Regions from separate parts of the Homo sapiens genome. Here region 2 is linked to region 1. The links come from fine-mapping of genetic effects on gene expression. A gene starts in region 1. The other region holds a variant in brackets. All regions are shown on one strand. Distances are between the middles of the regions. Region 1 holds the start of PNLDC1 (PARN like ribonuclease domain containing exonuclease 1). Region 2 has its middle 12 kb from the start of WTAP.

Region 1 (2,913 bases):
AAAAAAAATTATTTTTGTGTGTAAATTTTCTTAAGAAAAAAAAATCACAGGCCAGGTGTGGTTGCTCACGCTTATAATTCCATCACTTTGAGAGGCAGAGGCAGAAAGATTGCTCGAGCCCAGGAAGTCAAGAACAGCCTGGCCAACATGACGAAAACCCATCTGAACAAAAAATTTAAAAATTAGCTAGGTGTGGTGGTGAGCCTGTAGTCCCAGTTTACTCAGGAGGCTGACGTGCTAGTATCACTTGAGCCCAGGAAGTCTAGGCTGCAGTGAGCTAAGACTATGCTACTGCACTCCAGTCTTGGTGACAGAGCAAGACCCTGTCTCAAAAAATAAAATAAAAATCGCACACACACAGTTTTACTTGAAAGAGTAACAGTGAGTGTTCCTTAATACTGACTTATTTAAGCACGGAAACAATGCTGCTAAATTTGGTTTGCTCCGAAGTGTTGATTTCCATATGTATACAATGGCCCAACACAAAACAAGCATACAAAACGATACTCAATATCCTTGAAAAATCTCAGAGCTGTTTTTACAGTAGGAAATCCAAGGACAATAAAAATACCTTCTTGAAAAACTCTAACAGCTGATATTAAACTCACCAATCTGACAGACTGTAAATTGCTGAACACTCTGACGGGTCTTTAGATACCACTCCGATGGCAAATCAAAAAGACTGTGAACAAACAGGCATCTCATTCCACGAGCAATGACATCCCATCCCGGCACTATGGCCTCCGCGGCAGGACCACCACTCGCAACCGGGGAGGATTTTTTCCTTGTTACAACAACTAGGGAGCACTACCATCATTTAGTGGACAGAAAAAAGCAAGGTCCTCCAACACGTAGGAGCAAGCCACACAAAACGTCCTGCCCCCCAAATGCCAACAGGCTGCTGGCCAGAAACAGTGCTGGTCTGGCCAGGCTCTTATACAGAGGGGACACAGCTTTAGTTTTACCTGATCTGCTGGGGCCCAGACAGGTTAGAACGAAGGCCCGTGAACTCTATGTCCAGACCTGCCAGGAAGGCAAAAAATAGCAGTCCTCGGGTGCAGAACATCGCCAGCACTCCTCACACTGTAGATCTGCAGGCGGCCAAGGCACCCGCGCTCACCTCTGCGCTCAAGAAGCCAAGTGAGGTCAGGAAGGGAAAATGGAGGAACCAAGGCAAGGAGCAGCCAGGCACCTGGGCGCACGGGGCTCTGGCCAACAAGGGACGTGGGGCTCGGAGTGTACTTGCTGCTCAAAGTCCCACCGCCCCGGGGCTGGAGAAGGAAGCCCCCCTGTCCTTCCCGAGGCCCTCTCTGAGGCCCTGTGGCCTGGCAACCGTCCCGCCACCCCCTCCTCAAGCTCGCCCGGGGCAAGGGGCTCTGTCCGGCACAGCCGCGAATCCCAGGCTCTTCACCCACGAAGTCGGCCTCCTGGACGAGCTCCTGCAGCAGAGGGAGGCTCTCCTCGAACTCGTCGGCGCCCACGTCCATGGCCGTGCAGCTCCGCGGAGTCGCCCAGCGCTATCACGTGCTGCCCACGTGCTGCCCACGCGCTTCCGTCGCGCCGCCGGGTCTTAAAGGGCGCACACATGGAAACCAGGCAGCTGCCTCCGCCCCACGTGCCCAGCTTCCCCGTGTGCTGCTGGCGTCGCCCACACCTGCCTGCGGGTGTTTTAATTGTACGATTTGCTACAGAGGTTTGATTGCAATTGCAATCAAAGCCTGTTTACCTGGCTCCTCAGCAATTTCTTTGCAGCCCTTAACGTGAGAATGTCATTTACATGGACTTAGAATGTTAAGAGGCGTGGCAGGAGACGAAGACAGAGTCCAGAAAGGGTGAAATCAGAAAAGCGGAGCAGGAACAACACCGGACGCAACTGCAATAAGCAGATCCTTTGCTGCGGCTCACGGTCTTCTAAATCACCTCTTCCCAACTTCTCCATCACTGCCAGTATGTCTGTCCCCATTCCCTCTCCCACGCCCCTGGACATCTTTTTCCTCATTCTGCTGTCCACCTTACCACTGTCTTCACACCTGCAATCAAACTTTGCAAAGCCTCAAGAACTGCCCATTAAATTGAAGGAATCCTTGGTCCCCAGGGATTATCTCGTGCACTCACTCCTTGCGGAAATCCCTACCTACATCATCACATACATGTGAGCTTAATTTTTACTTTTGTTACTGTTTCCAGTGCAACTAGTCCATGGTCTTCCTTACAGTGTCCTCCCTTGAATTCTAGGCTTCTACTTGAACAGCGTTTTGGAACTATGGTCCTCAAAGTGAGGTGCTCAAATCAATCTTTAAGGTTAGCGGAGAAAACATTACCGTTATACTTTATTTTTTCCTTTTGAGACAGTCTCACTCTGTCACCCAGGCTGGAGTGCAGTGGTGCCATCTCGGCTCTCTGCAATCTCCACCTCCTGAGTTCAAGCGATTCTCCCGCCTCAGCCTCTGAACAGCTGGGATTACAGGCATGCACCACCACGCCCAACTCATTTTTGTTTTTAGTAGAGATAGGGTTAAACCGTATTGGCCAGGCTGGTCTCGAATTCCTGGCCTCAAGTGATCCACCTGCTTCAGCCTCCTAAAGTGGTGGGATTAGAGGTGTGAGGCACTGCATCCGATCTTCAATTATACTTTTAAATGCCTCTCCGGGACATTAATTAAGCAAAAGGGGACTATTAAGCCATTTGATTCTGAAGACCTCTCAGAACAAATCATACTTCATACAGATGTGTTCCATTTAAAATAACACATTGAATACTCAAATTGGCAGAAGTAACATATTTCACTTCTAAACAAACATTTAATTGGGGTATACATTAAAAAAACTGGAAAACAATGCTCTAGAAGCCACCTTAACTGCCTACAGGTTTTTTCTCACATTTATCAAATAGCCAAAAATTAACACCTTAAT
Region 2 (2,913 bases), 85 kb after region 1:
CAACCCACTAGATGCCAATAGCACCTCTCTGTATATGTGACAGCTGAAAGTGTCCCTTTCTATATTTTCAATACTGCCCCCTCCCGTCATGCCCTTGATGAGAACTGCTGGTCTAAGGCAAGCATGGCTGTCATGGTCTTTACCACATAGTGATGGTGCTCAGTCTTCTTGCAGGCAGAGTTGGCCAGTTGAGCAGTTCTGGCTGGGATCAGAGGAAATCTCTCGGGGCTTCTGAGAAAAATTTTCCTTCCGGGGAGAGGCACATGAGGTGAAATGTTTTCCCCCTCCCTTCCTTGTTGTCTCTTACTAGGCTGTGAGAGGCTGTGCTGCTTGCACCTATAGGAAACATCTTGTGACGATGAGGCAACAAGTTGGAAAATGAAAGCAGGCTGCTGGGAATTCAGAGTCAAGAATGGAAAGTCCCTGGGTCCGGGATGACCTTGTTAATCTTCCAGACTCACCAAGGGACTGCCAGTTCTTGTACTTTTTATTAGGTAAAACAGATATGTCCTTATATTTAAAACCACTGTTCATCAGGATTCCTGTTACCCATAGCCAAACACATTCTAACTTAGAGAGGAAGGGCATTTACATGATCAGCAAGTGAAATAAAATGGAGAGGTGCCAGCAAAACTAGGTTTTTCTGTGACACTTTGCTTTATTGTTGTTGTTTTTACATTATGATGTCCATAGCCCTTGTTTCACAATAAAGCAAAAATTTAAAAGTCATTATTCATTTCCAGAAAACCAAACTTTTATAAGACAAAAAGCTAACTACAATAAAAATATAAGGGTCTTGAAGGATTTTATTTTCAGAACTTTTTTTTTTTTTTTTTCCTTGAGACAGGGTCTAGCTCTGTTGCCCAGGCTGGAGACCAGTGGTGTCATCTCAGTTCACTGCAGCCTGCACCTCCTGGGCTCAAGCGATACTCCCACCTCAGCCCCCCAGGTAGCTGGGACTACAGGTGTGAACTACCATACCCAGCTAATTTTTGCATTTTTTATGGAGACGGAGTCTCACCATGTTGGCCAGGCTGGTCTCAAACTCCTGGGCTCAAGTGATTCTCCCACCTTGACCTCCCAAAGTGTTAAGATTACAGGCGTGAGCCACCATGCCTGGCCTATATTCAGAACTTTTCAAAATACTATTCTGTTTGCCTCTGTTGCTTGCTAATAGTGTTTAACCTTATGGATGCAACGGTAAGATCCTGTTTGGTCAAACCTTCAGTCAAATCTCTTCAGTTTTTAAAAGGACGGTTTTTT[G/TG]TTCCCCACAAATTAAAGACCCACTAGGACAGGAGACAGTCCATTCAAAAACTATGTGACTGTTGACAAACTGTAAATCCATTCTTCTGCCAGAGGAGAGCACTGGGCCTTAAGCAATGGTTCTACTGTTGACCACACTGACTTCCTGTTAGACATGTTTTTGTTGCTCTTCCCTGTTTTTCTTAACCTGTAAATAGTTTTCTCTATCCCACTCATTTGGGTCCCAGTGCCACTGGCCAATCCAGGTCTTCAGCTTTTCTTGTCGACTAACAGTGGCCCCCCAATTGGTCCTCTGCCACCCATCTTTGCTTCCCATCCAAACTCTCTCCTACACAACAAGCCCTTTCTAAACACAAGTCTGGGAAATTTCCACTCCTGGGAAAATGGACTAGACATACTTTTCCATGTTCCTCTCACCAAGTATGGCTAAAAATCCTGAATATTATATGTAAAACAAGCAGAAGAAGACTGAAAGGCAAACTGGCTATGGACTTCAGGACCCAAGGACTGACACAGGAATGACTCCCTGTGTTTCATTTTTGCCTCATATATCCCAGAAGCCAGCAATCTGTACACATCAACAAGCACAGACAAAAACAGCCACCAGCAAAAGCCTCTTATGTATAACTAAAGGTCCAAGAAAGGAGGCAGTCTACCAAGACAGAAAACCTTTAGACAGTAACTGCTCTACTCCAGCCAGACAACAGAGAAGAATCTGCAGCCTACCCCCATCCACTCAAGCAAAGGCTTCTGATGAAAATGCCAGTGGGCTGTGATGTGATTAGTTAGGCAGGACACCAGGGTAGGCTTATCATAATCTGGGCACACAGAATTGCAGTCATTTGGCACACCTTTTCAACAAAGTGAAAAACAGGAATTGCTTTATAGTACCGTGGGAAAGAGTACCGCCTGGCGATGAAACGAGCAAAACATCTAGAGGCTGTGCTGCTGAGCCTGCTGGTGGAAGTCAAATCAGTGTTGGTTCTTAAAAGTTCACTACCCAGGCCCTGCCTGGGGAGTGAAGTAGGGAGTGTACAGTCAGGAGAAGGGACTGATGGAATGTGCGGGTCTGTTCCCGATGGAAGCTAGGCTTATCTTCCCTTGGAGGGAAGAATCCGTATGTAATATGTCAGCCAGTGTGGGACTCAGGGAAGTCCAAGGTCATTGGGTTTCTGGAGGGAAAAAAGAATAGAGGAAAAGGTATAGGCAGAGATGATGTTTCTTTGGTCCTCACAACCCGACGTCTAGGGAGGTGAGGGCCTGTATTAGTCTTATGTGACAGATGGGACAGCAGAGGCACAGAGAAGTCAGATGGCAGCAGAGATTAGAGGTAAAGCCGGTGTGCTCATGTGATCACTTGCTTATGTGAGCAGAAGTAGTTCTGCTTGTCATCTTGCTATAGCCCATTTGAAGGCAGAAGGAGGATAATTGCCCACTACACCAAAATTGCATTCCGCCAAACTTGCCACCAAGAGCTCAACAGTCGCCACGATGCTGAGCACGGAAGGCAGGGAGGGGTTCGTGGTGAAGGTCCAGGGCCTATCCTGGTCCTGCTCAGCTGATGAAGTGATGCACTTCTCTGATTGCAAAATACAAAATGGCACATCAGGTATTTGTTTCATCTACACCGGAGAAGGCAGACCAAGTGGT

The links. PIP is the estimated chance that this variant, and not a neighbour inherited with it, causes the effect.
Region 2: its variant is fine-mapped to the expression of PNLDC1 in esophagus mucosa (GTEx, PIP above 0.99). The same link has a PIP of 0.9 or more in thyroid and tibial artery.

What each region holds. Positions count from the first base shown.
Region 1 is chr6:159,798,882-159,801,794 of GRCh38, reverse strand. It overlaps PNLDC1 (PARN like ribonuclease domain containing exonuclease 1), which reads right to left and starts at 1,519. Exons shown (of 19, transcript NM_001271862.2): 1 at 1,412-1,519; 2 at 966-1,023; 3 at 609-682. The coding sequence starts at 1,487.
Region 2 is chr6:159,713,827-159,716,739 of GRCh38, reverse strand. It overlaps a transcript of SOD2 not described here and the pseudogene HNRNPH1P1. Among named protein-coding and RNA genes, the nearest start is that of WTAP, 12 kb to the left of the region's middle. The variant G/TG (reference allele first, on the strand shown) is at 1,264.